Linked DNA regions of Homo sapiens. The protein of the gene in region 1 purifies or fractionates together with the protein of each later gene. This does not show direct contact. Each region holds a gene or a part of one and is shown in the gene's direction. Other genes may lie near its edges.

What was found. The genes of interacting proteins can lie anywhere in the genome.
Region 2: the proteins of P2RY8 (region 1) and TAP1 purify together in Homo sapiens (co-immunoprecipitation; 2 studies listed by BioGRID and IntAct, with this or other methods). This does not show direct contact.

Annotation. Positions count from the first base shown.
Region 1 is NC_000023.11:1,534,386-1,538,525, reverse strand, and holds the start of P2RY8 (S-geranylgeranyl-glutathione receptor P2RY8), read left to right. Parts: upstream 1-1,340; 5' UTR 1,341-1,605; intron 1,606-4,140. UniProt on the Homo sapiens protein: G protein-coupled receptor for S-geranylgeranyl-glutathione (GGG), an endogenous metabolite present in lymphoid tissues.
Region 2 is NC_000006.12:32,847,707-32,850,704, reverse strand, and holds part of TAP1 (antigen peptide transporter 1), read left to right. Parts: intron 1-187; coding exon 188-385; intron 386-1,586; coding exon 1,587-1,715; intron 1,716-1,864; coding exon 1,865-2,053; intron 2,054-2,612; coding exon 2,613-2,786; intron 2,787-2,998. UniProt on the Homo sapiens protein: ABC transporter associated with antigen processing. In complex with TAP2 mediates unidirectional translocation of peptide antigens from cytosol to endoplasmic reticulum (ER) for loading onto MHC class I (MHCI) molecules.

The DNA of each region.
Region 1 (4,140 bases):
CACCTTGGCACCTCAAAGTGCTGGGAATACAGGTGTGAGCCACCAGGCCTCGACTTTTTTTTTTTTTTTGAGACAGTCTCACTCTGTTACCCAGGCTGGAGTGCAATGGCCTGATCTTGGCTCACTGCAACCTCCAGCTCCCGGGTTCAAGTGATTCTCCTGCCTCAGCCTCCCCAGTAGCTAGGATTACAGGCATCCACCACCATGCCCAGCTAATTTTTGTATTTTTAGTAGGGACGGGATTTCGCTATGTTGGCCAGGCTGGTCTCGAACTCCTGACCTCAAGTGATCCACCCGCCTTGGCCTCCCAAAGTGCTGGGATTATAGGCGTGAGCCAGCAGGCCTGGTCTTTTTGTTTGTTTGTTTGTTTTTTGGGACAGTCTCACTGTCACCCAGACTGGAGTGCAATGGCCTGATCTTGGCTCACTGCAACCTCCACCTCCCAGGTTCAAGTGATTCTCCTGCCTCAGCCTCCCCAGTAGCTGGGACTACAGGTGTCCACCACCACACCCAGCTAATTTTTGTGTTTTTAGTAGGGACGGGATTTCGCCATGTTGGCCAGGCTGGTCTCAAACTCCTGACCTGAAGTGATCCACCCGCCTTGGCCTCCCAAAGTGCTGGGACTACAGGCGTGAGCCACCACACCCAGCCTGGCTTGAGGGATTGATTCTACCATGTCTTTTCCCTGAGCAGTGGTTCAATATTCATTCATTCTTTCTCAGTGACAGATCCTTCCCTCTCAACCTCCTCCCACGAGTGACAAGAACCAACCGTTGCTCCTCACAAGCAAGGATACCAGAGCTCGGAAACCTGGTTCTCATTCCTGAAACTGGCCGATCCCCCATGGGATGTTGAGGATATGAGCCTGCAGCGCCCGTGACCAACTGTGAGAGCCGGAATGATCAGTGCCCAAGGTCTGTTCGCTTGTCACAGTCTGGCTGTGTACCAAGAGATGTCGCAATGAGCACAGCTTTAGAGTCTAAAAGGAAACGTGTTCTGTTCTTTCTTTGTTTTGTTTTGTTATTTCAGAAGAAACAGGAATCGGTTCTGGAGCATGCCACGGCTCTTCACTGCTGGTTACAAAATTTAGAAAAATCATTCTCCCTCTTTTCCTCACTCTCAGGGTTCTCTTAAGAGTAGGGCCCCCTGCGAGCCAGTGATAGGGAGGTGGGCGGTTAACGGTGCTGCCCAGAGACACAGCGACGTTACTCCAGTGGGCTCAGCCCTGCACATGAGTGTTCAGACAGTTACAGAGGAAATGTCACAACACACTTCCTTTCCACCTAAGCCTGAGTCGCAACCGTGGTGGTGCGCTGGGAGGTGGAGTTTGCAGAATTTGCATTCGGAGACAGTCGTGCCAGCCGGTGGGCCACCCAGCGAAGCGGCCGCCTTTGCAAGGTTGCTGGACAGATGGAACTGGAAGGGCAGCCGTCTGCCGCCCACGAACACCTTCTCAAGCACTTTGAGTGACCACGGCTTGCAAGCTGGTGGCTGGCCCCCCGAGTCCCGGGCTCTGAGGCACGGCCGTCGACTTAAGCGTTGCATCCTGTTACCTGGAGACCCTCTGAGCTCTCACCTGCTACTTCTGCCGCTGCTTCTGCACAGGTGAGCCGCCGAGCTGGACTTTTATGCTTGTCCTGCACTGTCAAGGGAGAAGACAGGGTCGCTGGGAGGGTCCGTGTACGGTGAGAACATGGGGGAAGACGGTGCAAACTCCATGAGGCGTGTTCTCCTCACGCTAGAGCAGACCAGGAGTGCAAATTTCCTGGGAGGAAGACTTTGCACAGCCGCTTCGTCACTTAGGGGAGAAATGCTCAAATTTTCCAGGGCTGCAAGCCACCCTTCCTTTAATAACTCATTCCATGAACTTTCAGAGGCCGAGGTGGGCGGATCACGAGGTCAGGAGTTCGAGACCATCCTGGCTAACACGGTGAAACCCCGTCTCTACTAAAAATACAAAAATTAGCCAGGCGTGGTGGCAGGTGCCTGTAATCCCAGCACTTTGGGGGACCGAGGTGGGTGGATCATCTGAGGTCAGGAGTTCGAGACCATCCTGGCTAACACGGTGAAACCCCGTCTCTACTAAAAATACAAAAATTAGCTGGGCTTGGTGGTGGGCGCCTGCGGTCCCAGCTACTCGGGAGGCTGAGGCAGGAGAATGGCATGATCCCTGGAGGTGGAGCTTGCAGTGAGCAGAGATCACGCCACTGCACTCCAGCCTGGGCGACAGAGCGAGACTCTGTTTAGAAAAAAAAAAACAAAAAAAAACTCATTCCATGAAATGCGCCTCTCTTGAGGTTAACCTTAGAGAGGGTAAGCAGCTGCGGCTGCTGCACGTAACCCATTTACGCCTGAGATTGCAGTTTTTTCAATGTTTGCAATGAGACCTTGGCGATGACCTTGAGCCGTGGGATATAAATAACTCCCAAATGCTTAGCGTTCCAATAATGGAAGAGTAAGCATAAATTAAACGGGTTTTAAAGCCCTATGGGTGCCTGGATGAGCACGGTGGCCCCTCGTCACCCCCTCGGTGCCAGGGAGACCCCAGACCCGGGTCTCACGGCCACCTCAGACCTCATTTGTACAGGTCCGCTTAGAAACCCCAATTCCTTGGGTCTTGTCAGATCTGTCCCCTAAAAAGCTGAGAAAAGGCAGAGGGAGCTGCTCTGGGAATTTCAGGCCACACACAACAAGGCCTGCTGTGGCGCTTTAGGTCCCATTTCTATAAAGGGGAACCATGGTCACGTGGCTCTGTTCCCAAAAAGAAAAGGGTTTGTGTGTGTGTGTGTGTGTGTGTCTGTGTGTGTGTCTGTGTGTGTGTGTGTGTGTGTGGTTGTTTCTTCCCATGTTGTTATCTTTACGTAACGTGGATGAGAAGTCTGAAGCGCGAGAGCCCTAAGTGAAAACCGCTGAGGAGCTGAAGCCCGTGGGGAAGCAGGTGCACCTGACTGCGCCGTTCAATCTCTCCTTCCCGTTCCGTTCCTCCTTGCATAGCCCACTTGACTTTGGCAAGCAGCGCCAGATAGTAGCATATTTTGTGTTTACGGCGGTGACAGACGCCTGTAATCCCAGCACTTTGGGAGGCCGAGGTGGGTGGATCACTTGAGGTCAGGGGTTTGAGACCAGCCTGGCCAACATAGTGAAACCCCGTCTCTACTAAAAATACCAAAATTAGCCGAGTGTGGCGGCGGGCACCTGTCATCCCAGTTACTCGGCACGCTAAGGCAGCAGAATCACTTGAACCCAGGAGGCGGAGGTTGCGGTGAGCCAAGATCGCGCCACTGCACTCCAGCCTGGGTGACAGAGTGAGACTCTGTCTCAAAAAAAAAAAAAAAAAAAAAGGAATTATCCCACATTGGAAAAGCAGTACTTTCATTTAGGCACTGCCAGACAGGTGCCAGCGTCCTACGTGCACCAGGATGCTGCCCCTTTTCCCAAATATTGGCCTCCCCCACCCCACAAGAGGACAATTAGGTCAGAGGCTGAGAGAGGCGTGCATGGGACGTACGGGACGGTGGGCAACCCTGTGTTTGTAAAAGCACATGCTTTTCAGATGCCTTCTGCCAGGTCCCCGCCTGGCTGCACCATTCAGACTGACCAACCTTGGGGTGGGTGGGAGAGGTGAGGTCCCCTTGGAGAACCACAGAGACGCTCCCTCCCTCCAACCCTACCCACACTGCAGTTCTGAGTTTGTCCCTTAAAGTTCCAGGGAAGAAGCGATGGCTTAGGATTAACAACAGCAGGGTAGCTGTTGCCAGTGGTGCATACGTACAGCCCTGCGCTTGGAGAGGCCCTTTCCCCGGGCAGATGGCCCCCTCTCGTCTGAGTCTCTCTCCTGCGCCCTCTCCTTCAGCCCTGCCTCTCCATCAGGACCTCCTCATTGGCTGTGTCTGGGCATGGTCCCCAACCTCCCTCCCCCAGCCCCTCTTCTGTCCCTAGAGGCAGTGGGGTGGGCGGGGCAGGGTCCAGGGATCCCAGTGTCCACCTGGAACCCTGCTCTTCCTCTCTCGGGTTAGGAGATTCTGCACGGCCCCTGGGAGACACACAACACCCTGCCTACACCTGTTAAGGTACGGAAAGGGCGTGGGCGTGATGGGTGCCCCCAGGATCACCCCCAAGGACCAGACTGAGCTCAGGGGA
Region 2 (2,998 bases), on another chromosome or scaffold:
ACCCGTTCTGAGTCATTTTCCTCTTCCTCGTATTTCTTTAGCATCCAAGGGGCATAGCTGTGTCTCTTTCTCTTTTCTCCTTTTCCTCTGTCTCTTCTCACCTTTAATTTCCAAATAGGTAACTCAGGTATTAGTGTCCCTGATGGTTTGCCAACCCGTGTGACATCTCTTGTCCATGTATCCACAGTTGCTGGAAGTGCAGGTGCGGGAATCTCTGGCAAAGTCCAGCCAGGTGGCCATTGAGGCTCTGTCGGCCATGCCTACAGTTCGAAGCTTTGCCAACGAGGAGGGCGAAGCCCAGAAGTTTAGGGAAAAGCTGCAAGAAATAAAGACACTCAACCAGAAGGAGGCTGTGGCCTATGCAGTCAACTCCTGGACCACTAGTGTGAGCACCTGAAGATGAATACCCATTCCCTTGTCCTTAAGATGCCGTGACTCCATTCCCATTCCTATGACCCTGCTCCCACTCCTCCTTTACTGGGAAATGGTTGGTTCAGTATTTTCGTCCTAGCAACCTGAGGCTCAATGACTCTACTCAGTGTCCCTAGCCCCCTCCCTCTCTTTAAAGATGCTAGGTGGCTTCCTTTCAGTATGGTACATAAAATCCACCCAACCATGTGGATTGGAGAGATGCGTGTCTTCCAGTCCTAGGGCCTTCCTTTGCCTCTCAGGGGAAGTGCAGGGCGCCATAAATTCTTGCACCTGGGACTGCTTCATGCTGGTACCTTGTAGATTTGTTAGTGAGAGTGATGGGAATAGTGGAAGCCAGGGATGAGGGACATCTGTGATGCACTGGAAAGAGAGCTACGCCAGTGATCCGAAGATCCTGGCTTGATGATGCAATTTACTTGTCTTGTGATCATGACAACAAATTTACCTTCTCTGAGACTGTTTCCTCTTTATTTATTTATTTGTTTGTTTGTTTGTTTATTTTTACTTATTATTATTATTTTTGAGCTGGAGTCTCGCTTTGTCGCCCAGGCTGGAGTGCAGTGGCGCGATCTGGGCTCACTGCAAGCTCCGCCTCCCGGGTTCACGCCGTTCTCCCGCCTCAGCCTCCTGAGTAGCTGGGACTACAGGCACCCGCCACCACGCCCGGCTAATTTTTTTTTTTTTTTTGTATTTTTAGTAGAGACGAGGTTTCTCCGTGTTAGCCAGGATGGTCTCAATCTCCTGACCTTGTGATCCGCCCACTTCGGCCTCCCAAAGTGCTGGAATTGCAGGCATGAGCCACTGCGCCCGACTGGTTGTTTCCTCATTTTTCAAAAATGGAGTGATATAACCTTCTTTATAAGGCTCTTCATGTATTAGCTGACATCACATGAATGAAAGCCTTTTGTGAAGAGTAAAATGCTCCCCAGACAAGGTGATAGTGGTGATGGTGGTGAAGATAACTGTGACTTGCATGATGTGCATTGAGTCAGACTCCATGGGGTCTCTGGTTCATTCTCCTGTCTGCCTATTGAGCCTGCCGATGTCACTTAGGAGACAGGGACTTGATATTTCCTTCAGGTTAATGACTGCGGTTCTTTGTGTCCCCTCCAGATTTCTCTACCTCAGTCCCTTTTTTTGTGGTCTCTTTATAGATTTCAGGTATGCTGCTGAAAGTGGGAATCCTCTACATTGGTGGGCAGCTGGTGACCAGTGGGGCTGTAAGCAGTGGGAACCTTGTCACATTTGTTCTCTACCAGATGCAGTTCACCCAGGCTGTGGAGGTGAGGTCCCTCCACCTTCACTCCCCAGTGTGATTCCTTCCTCTGGCCCAGCACCATCTGTGTGATGTCCTTCCATTCTTTACCCTTCTTGCTTCACATAATGCTGGCAAGCAGACTACCTCACTTTCACTATTCTTACCTCCCTCTAGGTACTGCTCTCCATCTACCCCAGAGTACAGAAGGCTGTGGGCTCCTCAGAGAAAATATTTGAGTACCTGGACCGCACCCCTCGCTGCCCACCCAGTGGTCTGTTGACTCCCTTACACTTGGAGGGCCTTGTCCAGTTCCAAGATGTCTCCTTTGCCTACCCAAACCGCCCAGATGTCTTAGTGCTACAGGTACAACCTACCACTCCCTGTATTCCACTGGCCCCAACTGCAATTCTGCCATCCTAAATTTTCTTCCTGCCTTCAGCCTGCTTACTGCCAAGCATATATCCTCCCTAACCCTTTAAAGGCAATGGTAGGCATCATCTGTTCCATAAATCTTCCCCAAACTCAAGAACCCAGTTTGGGCTTCCAAAGAGAATGAGAGAAGAGGTTTCGAAGAGAGTGCTCTCACGTTCCAAGGAATTGCTGCAGCAAAATCTGTGTCTTCGGTCTTCCATCTTTCCTTTTCCTTTGTAATTTGGAATGTGATTTTTCCCTTTCCTGGTGGTATCTGACATCAAGTGTGTGGCATAGTGGTGCTGGGTCTCTGCCCTTGTCTTTGCCGCTTCTTCTATCTCTACTCCTTGGGGAGGCATCACCCAGAAATCTGTGCATGTGGGAGGGTAGGAGTTTCTATATTTCCCTGTTTTTCTTCTGGGGTAAGACATCATGCTATGTAACAAGGCAATGACACTCTCAAGGTTAGAGGCCTTGGTAGCCTCTTATCGTGTGCTTCTCTGGCCTCTAGGGGCTGACATTCACCCTACGCCCTGGCGAGGTGACGGCGCTGGTGGGACCCAATGGGTCTGGGAAGAGCACAGTGGCTGCCCTGCTGCAGAATCTGTACCAGCCCACCGGGGGACAGCTGCTGTTGGATGGGAAGCCCCTTCCCCAATATGAGCACCGCTACCTGCACAGGCAGGTATGGAAGCAGGTGGCTTGAAGGAGGGCAGGGAGCATCAAATACGAAGAGCATTCTTACTGAGCACTCTGAAAGAGGGGTTAGGGAATGATAAGAGACCTTGGGTGGAGATGGTGGTGTAGTCAGGAGGGAGGTAGTATGATTTTGTGACATGTTCTCAATAAAGATTTTGAGTCTTCGATCTCTAGATAACCATACTCCCATGTGCCTTG